Regions from separate parts of the Homo sapiens genome. Here region 2 is linked to region 1. A link means that fine-mapping ties the variant in region 1 to the expression of a gene that starts in the linked region. Tissue or cell type: fibroblasts. Region 1 holds a variant in brackets; the other region holds the start of a gene. All regions are shown on one strand. Distances are from middle to middle.

Region 1 (8,182 bases):
CTCTAAAGTCTCTGCTTAAGCTACAGACCTTGGAGAAGAAAGTATATTTTACTCATTTTTAACACAATTTCATTAAAGGACAAAGAAATTCGATTTCTTAGGGATTTCCTCTATAAGCATTTTTCTTGTAGTCCACATATATTGTTTCACTTAAACAAATATTCTGAATTTTTTTGTTTCGTTTTGACTTGTTTTGTTTTGTTTGAGACAGAGTCTCACACTGTCACTCAGGCTGGAGTGCAGTGGTGCGATCTCTGCTCACTGCAACCTCCGCCTCCCGGGTTTAAACAATTATCCTGCCTCAGCCTCCCAAGTAGCTGGGACTACAGGTCCCATGCCTGGTTAATTTTTGTATTTTTTGGTAGAGACAGGGTTTTGCCGTGTTGCCCAGGCTCGTCTCAAATTCCTGACCTCAGGTGATCCACCTGCCTCGGCCTCCCAAAGTGCTGGGATTACAGGCATGAGCCATCGCACCTGGCCAGATTCTGAATTTTTAAACAGTATCTACTAGAAATCAAATTCATTTTTCTTGTTAAAAAGCCTTTAAACATCAAGAAGGGGAAATAATTATTAAGCATTTGCTTGGAACAGTTGAAGTAGTTTCTGTAATAGAAGGAAGACAGATTTGCCAGGGTATGAAATTCTGAATCCCATCTGCACGGAAGCTGGTTTTCATTTGTAATGCAGTACAAAATATTCTTGGCATCTTTGGTGCTTATTGCACACAGTATACTCCATGCTAAAACTAAATCTCGATAGAACTAAATACATTTCTTTCGTTAGATTTTTTTTCTAAGCATTTTCTCTCGTTCAAGTCCCTTGGATAAATGCATTCACCAAGTACTGCCAGGTCTTTCTACCTCTGCAGAGTTTAGTCTTCAATCTTCCTTATTCAGCCAGTTCATTCAGCTACTATCTATTGATGGGGGCCGAGGGGGACAGGAGTTCACAGGCTAACCTGAGAGAAGAAGGCAAGGCACATACACCCCTGCCCGTGTCCTAGATCTGTCTTTCAGTCTCTAGGGGCCTAGGCCCTGGCTTTCTGAATTTTACACATGATGACTGCTACGGTACTTACAGCCTCAATACGTTTGCCATCCACACTATTTTTTTTTTTTTAAGAGACAAGGTCTTGCTCTGCTGCCCAGGCTGGAGTACAGTGGCTTGATCATGGCTCACTGCAGCCTTTGCCTCCAGGGCTCAAGCGATCCTCCCATCTCAGCCTCCTGAGTAGCTGGAACTGCAGGTGCATGCCACCATGACTGGCTACTTTTTGTATATTTTTTGCAGGACAGGGTTTTGACATGCTGTCCAGGCTGGTCTCCAACTCTTGGGCTCAAGCGATCTGCCTGCCTCCACCTCCCCAAAGTGCTGGTATTACAGGCATGAGCCACTGCACCCAGCCCATGTTCAGTCTCAAAACCAGTAGAATTCAGTTACAAAAACAAAAAACACACCAAACAAACACTTGTCTCAGGCATAACATATTACCTTGTTGATTTATTGTACCACAGCTGGAAATATGGGGACTGTCAGTTTCTCCTGAGAATCTGGGATACTGCATGCCTTAAGGGAGATTGAGGTGACAGTATGCTATCTGTCTTTTATTTATGAAGATAACCCTGTTGACCCACCAGGATATGCTTTGTAGTTTTCTCCATCCATCCTATCAATTTTTATTAGTTATGAAATTTACTGGCCCCTGTGGCACAAATCTAGAAGAACCAGCTCACTTGGTTCAAGCCTATAATTTCATCAACATAGCAGGTAACTAGCTGAGCTCACTTGGAACTGAGATCATAATAATGATTTAACCTCTCATTTGAGCAAGGCTTTACTGTTTAAAAATCACTTTCACAGAAATAATTCCATCTTATCTTGACAATGTCCCTGAGAGGTAACATCTTAGAAGCGAGGAAACTAAGTTTCCAAGAAGTCAAGTGACTTTTCCAGTAAAGGGGGAGTCAGGACTCACACCTAGGATGTCTTTCTCACTAAAATACACGCTCAAGTATACTTGATTGGTTGACATATGATAAATGGATACAAGAATTGTGGGAAGCTCTAGAAGAAAGGATGTTTTGTTGAGAAAACAAATCTAGGAAAGTGTCTGGAAAAGTGGTTTTCAATAGAGATTGTTTACTTTAAATTTAACTCTAGACCCAAGAATATCACATAGGAAACCATTAGGGAGTCATGTGAACAAGACAATCAAGTGTCAACTCATATGATACAGACATTAAGTACAATGATGGTTCAGAAAAGAGAGAGAACACAATAAGGTAATAAATCAAGGATAATATAATTGAGGAAGAGGGACTAAAGTTAGAACTTAAAGAATGTGCAAGATTTAGATGGAAGAGGGAAGTGGGAAGGGCACAATGGGCATTGGGAACAACCCAAGCAAAGGTGGAGAGTCATTTTCCAGACAGGGATTAGGAGCCAGACACATCTGATGGGAGGAGGGACTGAGCAGGTCTAGGCAAGGAAGTCGTGGGCATTGAGGTGAAATAAGGAGGTGGAATCAAAGAGGATCTTCAGTGCCTATTGGAGAAATACAGACTTGATGCTTAGGTGCTCTAAAGGGTGGCGGCATGAGGGAGAATCTGCTCCATGCCTCTGTCCTAGCATCCGGCTGTCCCACGCTTCCCTTGGCTTATAAATAGTGTTCTGTGTCTTCACATAATCGTCCCTCCATGCCTGTCTCTGTGTCCAAATTCCCCCTTTTTGTAAGGACATCAGTCATATTGGATTAGGGCCCACTCTAATGACTTCATTTTAACTTGATTACCTCCCTAAAGACCTACACTGTACAGGTTGAGCATCCCAAATCCAAAAATCTGAAATGCTCCAAGTCCAAAACATTTTGGGTGCTGACATGATGCTCAAAGGAAATGCTCATTGGAGCATTTCGGATTTCAGTCTTTTGGATTGCGGATGCTCAACCAGTCAGTATCTGCACATATTCCAAAATATGAAAAAAAACCAAAATCCAAAAATACTTCCGGCCCCAAGCATTAGGATAAAAGATACTCAACTTGTAGTATTTCCAAATACAGTCACAATCTGAGGTACTGGGAGACATCAATATATCTTTTTGGAGGGAGGGGGACACAATTCAACTCTAACAGCCACCTTTAAAGAGTCATGAGTAGCCAGGCGAGGTGGCTGACGCCTGTAATCCCAGCACTTTGGGAGGCCGAGGCAGGCAGATGGATCGAGACCAGCCTGGCCAACATGGTGAAACCCCGTCTCTACTAAAAATACAAAAATTAGCTGGTCGTGGTGGCGCACGCCTGTAGTCCCAGCTACTTGGCAGGCTGAGGCAGAAGAATCGTTTGAACCTGGGAGGCAGAGGTTGCAGTGAGCCAAGATCATGCCACTGCGCTCCAGCCTGGTGACAGAGTGAGGCTGCATCTCAAAACAATAAATAAATAATAAATTTTCAAAAATAAAAAAAATTGAGTCGTGACCAGCACAGTGAGAGGCAAAGAGGTGTTTTAGTGAGAGTGGACTGACCCCAGCATGCAGAATATGCTGGAAGGAAGGGAGGGAACTAGAGGCCATAGGTTGGGGCGGGGGTGGAGAAAAGTAGATAAAATCAAGACACATTTCAAAGGAAGAGTTGAAAAGATTTAAGTAGTAGCAATGGTAATGTGTCGTTAAGTCTAGAACATAACAGTTTACAGAACATTCCCATGTCTCCTTTCTCCTTTGTACCTGACTTAGGGGCTGAGTGGTGTCTTCAGGGTTTCTGGCCCTGGGAGAGAAGCTCCAGTGATAAGGTCAGCCACTCCAGTGAGAGTGGCTAGCAAAGGCAGCAGGGGGAGACTCAGAGCTGCAGGTGCTGAATTGGAGGTGGTGACAGAGCCGGGTGGAGCTGTCCCCTGGGCCACTGGAAACCTAAGCCAGCTGCCCCCTCTCTAGACATAGATTTGGAAGTCAAATGCATTCCAGCAGTCATCTAATCACAAGAGTGGGTGCGGCCTCTGAGTGAGTGAATGTAGGAGAAGAGCAGTGGCTTGATGTTTTGGCAAATTCCCGGAGTTAGAAGATTGCTAAGAATAAGGATAAGAAGCATTTAAAGTAGAGGAGAAATGGTAAAGTTCTCTACTTCCAAAGCCAAAGAAAAAGAGTTTCCAGTAGAAGGTGGGAGGAGAAGAGGGACGACTGGGAGAAGACTTTGGTTTAGCTAAAATGAGGACATGGGGAAAAGAAAGTGCCAAAGAAAGGAAGGAAGGAAGTCAGATGATAATTACAGGGTGGCAGGATTTAGAAAATGGTGTGGGGGGTTTTTATTGGAAAGTTGTGGGGTTTTCTTTTTGAGATATTGATTACTTTACTTACAGTCAAATTCACCTTTTCTGATGTTCAATTCTGTGAATTTTGACAAATGAATATAGTTCTGTAACCATGACTACTGTTGAGATAGGACCAATTATATCACCCCCAAAATTCTTTGTTGCTGAGGTGCTTTTTTGTTTTTTTAGAGGAAACCAATGTGTATTTGAAGTCAGAAAGGAAGAAACCCATGGGAAAGGAGGAGATGATGGTGTTAAAGAGGAAAGGGTTGAAGGAGTGAGGCGTGGAGGTGGTAGGGAGGCAGGTGGGCCACTGAGAATGCTTCAATTTTGGTGGGAAGGAACATTTCCTCTCTTCCTATGAAGTAGAAGGAAGGATGGATGCATACATTCAGGGTCTATGATATCTTTTTATGGTTAATTCCAAAACTCCTGCCAGCAAAACCATTTCCTGCTGAGAGAGATGTTAAATGTTGCATTGC[A/G]TAATTTCTGCCACGGAGGTATGATTTCCTGTTGCAATCACTGTTTGCAGGAATTACATGCAAGGGGAGTACAGGCACCGGGCTGCTTTGCTTTGGGATATGTGCCCAAATCCTGCTCTAATGTAATACCATAGCAATTTTAGAACTAACAACTTTAAAATTCTTCAAAGTTAAGTGCATCTGCATCTTTTCCTGCACCATACAGTGAGAAAGCTTGGCAGCAATAATGGCTTCAATCCCCATAAATACTCCTGACAGGTGTAAATGAGTCACTGCGGAAGAGCTAGCTTCCACAGACATGTCCTTGGGGCATTATTTGGCAGAAGAGATTGAATTCTCATCATTTTATGCTCAAGACTCACAACCACTCAGAAGTGCAGTTTTCTCCTTGACATCTATGATGTTGCTTGCATCTCCCTTTATCCTTGCAGTCACACTGTGATTCAGGGGTGGGAGGAAAGAAGGTGTTGGATAGCGATTCTCAAACTGTGGGCTTCATGAGCGGGTTGTGAATCAAGTTAGTGAGTTGCAGCCAGTTTACTGAAAAATGAAATAGAATAGGAAATAGCAGAGGGCATCGGGCTAAATGTGATCTCATGCAACCTTTGTTTCAGTGAAATATATGTATCTATTACTGGACTGCAACATAAAATACATTTCTGCTGCGGATCTCAGTCACAAAAGTTTGGAAACTGAATGTAGAAGTATGCAGATCCTTTATGACCCTAGGCAGGCTACTGAATGTCCTTGTGGCTTAGAGTCATTGTCTGTAAAATGAGGCTCATAAGTTACCTACTCTGTATGGCTGTTGAGAGTGTTAAACAGAAAATGCATAGGTAGCATTAGGTGCTGTGCCTGGTTAACAGTCAATGCTTGTGATGATGATTTGTTTTCCTGCCTAGATCTATAGGTCAAATTTTTATTCAATGCCCAGACCTTTCTTCTGAGCCTAGAACTATAACTCAGCAGCTATTTGACATCTCCAGGCAGTTGTTCTACATGCATCTCCAACTCAGCATGTCCAAAGTGGAACTCAATTAATTGCCACTTTCTCTCTCCAATTCTTAACCTTCCCCGTGCCCTGTCCCACCCTCGAGCACACAGACCCCTCTGCTGCCCCCAGCTGTGTACTTCATATGTGGTGCTTCCAAACTGCTTCTAGTTGGTCTTCCTCCACTAACACACATATGTCTTCAGGTTTCCTCTGCCTTGAATGCTTGTTCCACTTTTTTGTTGTATGACTCACTCTTTCCCATCCTTCAGGGCTTAATACAAATTGGTTTTCCAGTCAGAAAGATGTAGGCTTGAAGTCACTAATCATTGGTGACAGCTGTGTGACTCTGAGAAGCAAATTTCTGAAGCACTCAAAGTCAGTTTGTTCCTCTGTAAAATGGGAAAAGCTGTGCCTGCTTCATAGAGTTAAGATAATTTTTTTTTTTTTTGAGACAAGGTCTTGCTCTGTTGCCCAGGTTGGAGTGCAGTGGCATGATCACGGCTCACTACAGCCTTGACCTCCCGAGCTCAAGGAATTCTCCTGCCTCAGCCTCCCAAGTAGCTGGGACTACAGGCAGGCACAACCATGCCTGCCTAATTTTTTGTATTTTTCATAGAGATGAGGTTTCACCATGTTGCCCAGGCTGGTCTCGAACTCCTCAACTTAAGTGATCCACCTGCCTCAGCCTCCCAAAGTGCTGGGATTACAGGTGTGAGCCATGGTGCCCCGCCAAGTTAAGAGAATTAAATGAATTCTTGTGTGTATAGAATAGTACCCAGCACATACAGAGTAGTTAATAAATGGCTGTGATTCTTTTTCATTTTTAAAGAAGGCTCAATTCACCTCTTTCTAGAGCTTCTTACAGACCTGAATGTGTCAGGTTGTTGAAGAGCTTTGCAGTTTTGCACCAGCTATTCCTTCTGATCAGATTACCTTTTCCACACTTCTTCCTTTGACCAAGCCCTACTCCTCCCTCAAGGCTCAACCCAAGTGTCACCTCCTCCGGGACCCTGCCAACATCCTGTGCTCACCTCCATCAGAATTCTTGACCACCTAAACTATGATTACCTTCTTTCCCCCTAGATTCTAAGTCTCCTGAGGGCTCCATGTGACATGTGTCGTGGGAGGGATCCGGTGGGGATCAAATCATGGGGGCAGTTTCCCCCATGCTGTACTCATGATTGTGAGAGAGTTCTCTTGAGATCTGATGGTTTTATAAGCATCTCGCATTTCTCCTGCTTGCACTCATTCTCCCTCCTGCCACCCTGTGAAGAGGTGCCTTCTGCCATGATTGTAAGTTTACTGAGGCCTTCCCAGTCCTGCAGAACTGTGAGTCAATTAAACCTTTTTTTTCTTTATAAATTACCCAGTGTCGGGTATTTCTTCATAGCAGCATGGGAATGCATGGATACAGTTAAGGCCATCCCCAACATGGCTTCTATTGCATGTTCTAGCCTTTTCTTCTACTTATCCTCACCTTGTACCTCATACCATGGAAAACTAGGCTCCTTACTCCCTCACTGTGCCCCATACCTCATTTCCTTGTATGCCTATTCATGCTGGCTCTTTCTGTTTAGCCCCACAAACCCACTAAAGCCCTCTCAAATGCTACCACATGACAATTCTAGAACCTTTAGTGATCTACTTTTTTTAAACAAACAGTAGTAGTTGTCCTCAATTCTGCTTTGCATCCCACAGCAACCCACTATGGACTTTTCTTGTGGAGAAGATTGTCCTTTATACAGCAGTTTCTTTACATACTTGTTTTTTTATGGCAAGTTGTTTGAGTCTGAGGATTGTGTCTTTTTCTTTTCTTTTCTTTTCTTTTCTTTTTCCTTTCTTTTCTTTTCTCTTGAGACAGGGTCTCACTCTTGTCACCTTGGCTGGAGTGCAGTGGTACAATCACAGCTCACTGCAGCCTCGACCTCCTGGGTTCAAGAGATCCTCCCAACTCAGCCTCCTCAGTAGCTGGGACTATAGGTGTGTACCACCATACCTGGCTAATTTTTAAATTTTTGGTAGAGATGGGGGTCTCACTATGTTGCCTAGGCCTGGTCTCAAACTCCTAGGCTTAAGCAATCCTCCTGCCTGGGCCTCCCAAAGTGCTCATGTAATATGCATGAGCCACCTCGCACAGCCAGAGGATTATGTCTTAAACATCTTTGTAAACTTACAGTATCAAGGACATTACATTGCTTGTCTTTTCTCATAAGTGTTTGAGGAAACAAATAGAATTGAAAATCAGCTAGATTTGGTTGTGCTTTCTGCTTGCTAATTTAACTTTTGGGGGTTGGGGTGTGGGAAATTAAGGTTTAACTTGTCTTTTGACTCTTAAATATATTTCTTCTACATGCAATTGGAGCTGGAGTTGCTACATTTAGCAATTAGGCATGTAAACATTAGTA
Region 2 (8,182 bases), 29 kb before region 1:
CAATATGCAACCTTTTGTGTCTGGCTTCTTTCACTTAGCATAATGTTTTAGGGATTCATCTTTGTTGTAGAACTTCATTTCTTTTTATGGCTGAAAAATATTCCACTGTATATAACCACAATGTGTTTATCCATTCATCTTTTGATGGACATTTGGGCTGTTTCCATCCTTTAGCTATTGTGAATAGTGCTGCTATGAATATGGGATGTACACGTATTTGTTTGAGCCCCCGTTTTCAATTGTTTTGGGTATCTATCCAGAAGTAGAATTGCTTGCTCATATGGTAATTCTATGTTTAGCTTTTTGAAGAACTGTAGAGCTGTTTCCCACAGCAGCTGAACCATTTTACATTCCACCAGCAATGTACCAGGGTTCTTGTTTCTCCACATCCTCCTCAACACTTGTTTTCTTCCTTTTTAGTAAGAAAAAAAAATATATATATATATATATATATATATGGCTATCCTAGTAGGTGTAAAGTGGCACCTCATTGTGGTTTTTTTTCTTTTTTTTTTTCCTTATTATTGTTATTATTTTTTAATAGAGACCGGGTCTCACCATGTTCCCCAGGCTAATCTCTAACTCCTGGGCTCAAGTGATCCTCCTGCCTTAGCCTCCCAAATTCCTGGGATTACAGGTATGAGCCACCACGCCTGGTCTCATTTGGTTTTTTGGGTTTTTTTTCTTCTGAGACATAGTCTTGCTCCGTTGCCCAGGCTGGAGTGCAGTGGCATGATGTCAGCTCACTGCAACCTCCACCTCCTGGGTTCAAGCAATTCTCCTTCCTCAACCTACCGAGTAGCTGGGATTACAGGCATGCACCACCACGCCTGGCTAATTTTTGTATTTTTAGTAGAGACAGAATTTTGCCATGTTGGCCAGACTGGTCTCGAACTTTTGACCTCAGATGATCCACCCAACTCGGCCTCCCAAAGTGCTGGGATTACAGGCGTGAGCCACCGTGCCCAGCCTCATTGTGTTTTTGATTTGCACTTCCCTAATGACTAATGTTGAGCATCTTTTCATGTGTTTGTTGGACATTTATGTATTATTCTTAGAGAAATATCTATTTAAGACCTTTGCCCATCTTTAGGTTGGGTTGTTTGTCTTTTTATTGTTGAATTGCAGGAGTTTTAAAAATATATCCTGGATACTAGAACCTTATCAGATATATTATTTGCAAATATTTTCTCCCATTCTATAGGTTGTCTTTTCACTTTCTTGATAATGTCTTTTGAAGCACAAAAGGTTTTAATTTTGGTTATGTGCTGTGGTTTCTGAGCACTAGGGAGGCCCAAGCAGGAAGATAGCTTGAGGATGGGAGGTAAAAGCTGCAGTGAGCTATGAAGCTATGATCTGGCCACTGCACTCCAGCCTGGGTGACAGAGTAGGACTTTGTCTCTAAAGAAAGAAAAAAAGAAAGAAAAAATTTAAAATTTTAACGAAGTCCAATTTATCGATTTTTTTCTTTTGGCTGCTCATGGTGTCCTGAAGCTTTTTAAAATGACAGGATCCTAACACTTGTGAAGGCTATGTCACGGGCGTGTCCTCAACCTTGGAAAAATAAACTTTCTAGGTTAATTGAGAGCTGTCTCAGATTTTCTGGGTTCACACACCTTAGAAGAAAACTAGATTATTTCAGGAAGGTAACCTGTACCTTAAAGTCAAAATTGTGAAAGTATGGATGTAACAGCTCTTTTGAAATAATTAGAAGGATACAAGGGCCAGAAGGAGCCTCATACATCATTTAGAAAAGGTTCTGGAGGAATTTTACTTTAATACAAATTAAACACCAGTGGCAGAATCATAAACATTTTCAAACTAATATAGATTAGAAAGGATGGCATTTGGGGATTATTATTTTTATAATCAGAAGGGCTTGAGAAAAAGTTTGCGGAAAATAAATACGTTTCAACATTTTTCTCTGATAATTCATTTTGACAACTACTGTGTTCATTTTGATAACTACTATATCACTTTATAAATGATGAAACTATTTCAAATGTAATGACTGTACTTTTCACAGTTTGTATGCCTATAATTTATGCAATGCCACACAATCAACCAAACAACTCTTAACTTTATTTTTACTTCAGTGTATTATTTAGAAATGATATAAGGAGGCCAGCCGCGTTGGCTCGTGCCTGTAATCCCAGCACTTTGGGAGGCCAAGGCGGGCAGATCACGAGGTCAGGAGATCCAGCCATCCTGGCTGAAACCCAACTCTACTAAAAAATAAATAAATAAATAAATAAAATTAGCCGGGCATGGCGGCATGCGCCTGTAGTCCCAGCTACTCGGGAGTCTGAGGCAGGAGAATGGCCTGAACCCGAGAGGCGGAGCTTGCAGTGAGCCGAGATCACGCCACTGCACTCCAGCCTGGGTGACAGAGCGAGACTCTGTCTCAAAAAAAAAAAAAAAAAGAAATCATATAAGGAAAAAAAGCCCTACAGTTTACTTTCTGGTTCTTGGTTATTATCAAAGGGCATTGGAAGGTTAAGCTGCTGTAATAGCTTTAAAAGGGGAATTTAAGGCCGGGCGCGGTGGCTCACACCTGTAATCCCAGCACTTTGGGAGGCCGAGGTGGGCAGATCACGAGGTCAAGAGACTGAGACCAGCCTGGCCAACATGATGAAACCCTGTCTCTACTAAAAATACAAAAATTAGCTGGTCGTGGTGGTGCGCATCTGTAGTCCCAGCTACTCAGGAGCCTGAGGCACAAGAATCACTTGAACCTGGGAGGTGGAGGTTGCAGTGAGCCAAGATTGTGCCACTGCACTCAAGCCTGGTGACAGAGCGAGACTCCATCTCAAAAAAAAAAAAAAAAAAAAAAAAGTGGAATTTAGTTAAGTTTGGGAGACAGAAAGAAGCCACGGCTCTCCTGCCTTCTTCCAAATATACTGAACTTCTGATATGTTTGATCAAATGAAATGCTCATGGTCTGGCATGATTATAGGTGCAAGCCTGTAATCCCAGCTACTAGGGAGGCTGAGGCAGGAGGATGACCTGAGCCCAGGAGTTTGAGGCTACAGTGCACAATGATTGTGCCTGTGAATAGCCACTGCACTCCACCTTGGGTGATATAGTGAGACCCACATCTCTACACACACACACACACACACACACACACACACACACACGAAGAAGAACATAAACACATCAAATGTGAGCCATTTTGCTGACTTGGGCATACAATAAATCCATATCTCTGGGTTCTAAAGATGTACCAATCTTGCAGTGAGCTGAGATCACACTACTGCACTCCAGCCTGGTCAACACAGCAAGACTCTGTCTCAAAAAAAAAAAAAAAAATAGTAGACCAGGCGCAGTGGCACACTCCTGTAATCCCAGCACTTTGGGAGGCCAAGGCGGGCGGATCACTTGAAGCCAGGAGTTCAAGACCCACCTGGCCAACATGGCGAAACCCCGTCTCTACTAAAAATACAAAAATTCACCAGGTGTGGTGGTGCATTCCTGTAATTCCAGCTACTCAGGAGGCTGAGGCAGGAGAATCACTTGAACCCAGGAGGCTACGGTTGCAGTGAGCCAAGATTGTGCCACTGCACTCCGGCCTGGGCAACAGAGCGAGACTCCATCTCAATAAATAAATAAATAAATAAATAAATAAAATAAAGATGTGCCAATCAAACAAGTGTTTGCTCTGTAGATGAGGTGAGTGCTCCTGATCAGATAGTATATTCAATAAAATAAGCATGTCATCAAACTAACTTTCTTGGCCTTTGTTCTTTGGTTGAAAAACTCCCGTTGACCTCATGAATACCACATTTATTAACCCCGGAAGACAACAGATAGCTAATGCAACATAAATATCTGTGGCTTTAAAAATACATATTATTATGTGTGCAGTCTACAAACACTTTCCTGAAATTGGTCTTCTGTGGGCAGTGATTTAAACTTTTCAACTTGGACGCTTTTCCTACTGGGGGCTGTAAAGATGATAACTCAGCCCTTACTCTTCAGTGTTTCTCATTCCCGTCTCCCCTACTTCGGAATGAAACACAATATCTTAAGCAAACAGAGCCCAAAGAGGCTGATCATTGGCTCTCATTGTCCCCTGATACTGTAGCCCCGCCCCTTTGGCTTGTGCTGACTAGCTGTTTATATTTTAGTAAGGGCCACCCTTTAACTCGGCAGCTTGATGACTATAATGGGCCCAGTTGTCTGCGGGCTGCGGGGAGCTAAGTCCCCAGATTGGAGGAGGCTGGCTCTGGTCTTCGATGCACAGGAGTGGCCGTTATGGAACGCAGGTAAGGACGCTTCTCAATGTGGGATAATTCTTTTTCTGGGCCAGCTGGTTAATCCGGGGCTGGGAGAAACAAGTTGTGATTGGGTTGCTACTTTTTCCTGGTTTTAATTTTTTCCCTGCAGAAGAGGGAAGGAAAAGACTGGGATTTGCTGACAAAGCTCACAGTGAGCTCTGTTAATCCAGGCAGGAAGGGAGTAAGGAAGCAAAAAATCGAGGGAGAGACACAGCTGGATTTGACACCAAAGCAACATGAATGTGGCAAAGCATAAGGCCAGTTCCAGTGATGTTGTGAGACTCAAATGCTGTTTTATTTCCTAACATAGGTAGTCACAGTCAGGAGCTTAGCTGGGCCTCTCCGGGGTTTCTGTAAGCCAGCTGCTAGCCGATGTAACTCAGTCGACCCCATTTGAAAGGACCTAATATCTGCTAGTATTTTCAAAGGGCAAACTGTAGTAGTCTTGCATGTTATAAATAGGTCTATTCAGAAATGTGGGAACAGTTTAGAGCAGACAGGAGACTGTAAAGTTTTACTGCCCCATAAAAGTGCTCAAAGGGTACTATGTCCCTCTGCCGTGCGACTGTGGAATGAAGAAATAGCCCCAGGTGAATAGAGCGTTTGTCCTTGACTACCCAAGTGAGAAGTCAGCAGAGCCTGGGGACGCCATGTGAGTCGGGGGTGAAGCCTGATGTGGGCTCAGCCAGCCACACCTCGGGGTGCTTGCTGGTTTCCGGGGTGTGAATGGGTGAGGGTGGAAAACCACTCAGGCACCGGTCTTTGGTGCCTGCTTTATCTCTTGGCTGGCCCATTCGGTGCTCAGTGAGGCACCTGTCGTAGCTCACGGGGTGCGCAAAGGGCAAGGAAAGGGTTGTGCTGTCATTGCGACCTGTAAGGTGGGGAGGGGGCTACAACATCTCGAGTCCTGGGAGTTGCTTTAGAAAGTCCTCCTCCTCCTGCTGAAAAAAAGAATCACCTACGGCAGCTTTGATCAGATAAGTTTCTGGTGAGCCCCGTGGTGTGGAGTCAGTGAACTTGCGGTTTGTGTTTGTTATCGACAGGAGCCTGATAAAATGAAAAGGTGAGGTTTAATTTTTACATAAAGCTAGAGGTGAACCATGGGACTTTAATACATTTAATGCTTTGAAAGTCTCCCCACCTCTCCAAATTCCCTCAACTTGTATCTATTATCTAGGTACACCTTGTTTAAAGCCACCATGCTGTTTGCGGATCCTGGAGGTATTAAGTCAGAATACAAAGGGTGTTTTTCAAATGAATTTGACGCCAAGCAACATGAATGCTTGAACCCATTGTATGAAAACAGGCAGTCTCTAAGTGAGGCCAGGTTCTCCTGGTGCGGTCCTAGAGCCCTGGAGAGGGATGAGTCACCCCACGAGGAGGTCCTGACAAGGAATGGAAATTCTGACTCTGCCAGTGAACTTTTGACTCTCCCAGGTGGGGTGGAGGCTCCAAAGGGAAAGGACAGGTGTGCATCATTCACCCTCCAGGCCCACCGCAGGCCTCACAAATCCCATTTGGTCAGGTCAATGCATTCTCACCTTCCCACCTAAGTAGGTGTCCCACAGTTTAACTCAATTCTGACACTAACTGCAGTGAGTGCAGACCCTGAGGTTTAAGGGCTCAGTCCTACCAGGCTGCCCCGACCTCAGAGGCCAGTTGCAGGCTGAAGGTTGTCACTTGTGCTTCTGACTAGCTGGCTATCCATGAGAAGTTCTCACGATCCTTCCTCAGGTAGATTACAAGCTGTGTAACTTTGTCTAACTTTGTGCTGTAAGTCAGAGATTGACTTCTTGGGGTCACTGTTTTGTTAGCATAGCTCACGGAACTCAGGGAGACACTTAATTCCATTTACCAGTTTATTATAAAGGGTATTACAAAGGATACAGTTGAATGAATACATACAGCCAGGTGAAGAGATGGCTAGGGAGGGTCTTGGAGCTTTCATGTCCTCTCCGGGCGCCACTCTCCCAGCGTCTCCATGTGTTCAGCTATCCAGAAGCCCTCCAGACCCGCTCCTTTGGGTTTTTATGGAGGCCTCATTACAAAGGCATGATTGATCAAACCATTGGCCATCGGTGATTGAGTCAACCTCCTGCCCCTCTTTGCTCCCTGGAAACAGGGTCAGGGGGTGTGTATGGGTGGAGTAGGGAGAAAGGGGCTGAAAGTTCCAACTCTCTAATCACTTGCTTGGTTCCCCTGGCAACCAGCCCCCTCCAGAGGCAATCTGGGAGCCCTCAGTCGTCAATCATCTCATTAGCATACAAAAAGGCTCTTTATCACTTTGTACATTCCAAGGGGTTTTCTTTCTTTCTTTTTTAAATTTGAGACAGGGTCTTGCTCCGTCACCCAGGCTGGAGTGCAGTGGCATGATCATGGCTCACTGCAGCCTTGACCCCTTGGGCTCAAGCGATCCTCCAGATCCTCCCGCCTCAGCCTACCAAAGTGCTGGGATTACAGGTGCATGCCCCCATGCCCAGCCAATTGCAAGGATTTTAAGAACTATGTGCCAGGAAGCAGAGACAAGACCAAATATATATTTCTTATTATAAATCACAATATCACACCTTCCTCATGATTCACACTTCAGGTCACTTACTCACTGTGTAACTCTGTGCAAGTTCCCTAACCTCTCTGTGCCCCAGTTCCCTTATCTGTAAAATTCGCTAAATTCCAGGAAGGGCCAGCCACACTGGTAGGCCTATGCGGTGCGGTGGCCGATGGGGGACAGACGACACACAGAGGCAGAAGCCAAAGAACACGGGTTTAAAAACAAGGGGTTAAGAGCAAGAGCTTTGATTCAGACGAACCTGGAGTCCAGCCTCACTTTCGTTGTTTTACTTATATGTTATTGGGCAAGTTACCAAATCTCCCTAAGTCTGTATTCCTTCAGCCAAATAATGGGATGACAATCTGTTTCACTGGATGATTGTGAGGTTTAAATGTGGTCATGCATCAAAGTTCCTTATACAGCACTCAGTGCACAGCAAATATTCAGTGAATATTAATTATTTTATTATGACTGCTACCAGCATCTAACGACAGTCCTAAATACCATCTAAGTTTACCAAATGTCTCTCTGATTTACTGGTGACATTGGATAAAGGAAATGCTAAGAGAATGCAGTGCAGTGGAAAGAAGGGCGGGCTGGACATCAGCGTTCTGGTCTCCATCCGGGACTGGCCAGCAGGTGGCTCTGGAAAAGGGAGTCCCTCAGGGTCACGGTTTTCTATCTGTCCTGAGGCATGATCTTCAAAGTCCATTCTAGCTTCTGTCTATGACTTTAGATCTGACAGAAATCTCCCCGGAGGAACTCATGAGCCGTAAGTTAAACATGGTTTGAAATCACCCTTGAGCTCCTTGCTGATCATGCTTATCCATGTTGAAGGCTCATCCAGGAATAATAGATGGGTCTTGTGTGTGGTTTGAAAAGTTCACTTCTGGCCAGGTGCAGTGGTGAACCCTGTAATGCCAGCACTTTGGGAGGCCAAGGTGGAAGGATCGCTTGAGGCCAAAAGTTCAAGACCAGCCTGGGCAACATAGTTAGACTTTGTCTCTAAAAAATAAAAATAAAAATTAGCTGGGCATGGTGGTACACACCTGTGGTCTCAGCTACTCAGGAGGCTGAGGCGGTAGGATCACTTGAGCCTGGGAGGTGGAAGCTGCAGTGAGCTATGATTGTGCCAGTCCACTCCAGCCTGGGCAAGACCTTGTCTCAAAAGGAAAGTACACTTTTTATTTTCACAGGAGGTAATGATACATTCAAGTTGGTTACTTTACACAAGAAGAAATTTGTGTAATTTCTTACACAAAGAAATTACACAATTTTAGATAAATTTATCTTTATCTAAAATTATAATAAATAATTTTATTATTTAATAAACAATAAATAAATCTAAAAC

Evidence for each region. PIP is the estimated chance that this variant, and not a neighbour inherited with it, causes the effect.
Region 2: it holds the start of TRIM2, and the variant in region 1 is fine-mapped to the expression of TRIM2 in fibroblasts (GTEx, PIP above 0.99).

What each region holds. Positions count from the first base shown.
Region 1 is chr4:153,229,078-153,237,259 of GRCh38, forward strand. All of the region lies in intron 1 of TRIM2 (tripartite motif containing 2), which reads left to right. Among named protein-coding and RNA genes, the nearest start is that of TRIM2, 29 kb to the left of the region's middle. The variant A/G (reference allele first, on the strand shown) is at 4,784.
Region 2 is chr4:153,200,293-153,208,474 of GRCh38, forward strand. It overlaps TRIM2 (tripartite motif containing 2), which reads left to right and starts at 4,151. Exons shown (of 12, transcript NM_015271.5): 1 at 4,151-4,268. The coding sequence starts at 4,239. RefSeq lists an enhancer at 5,702-6,607.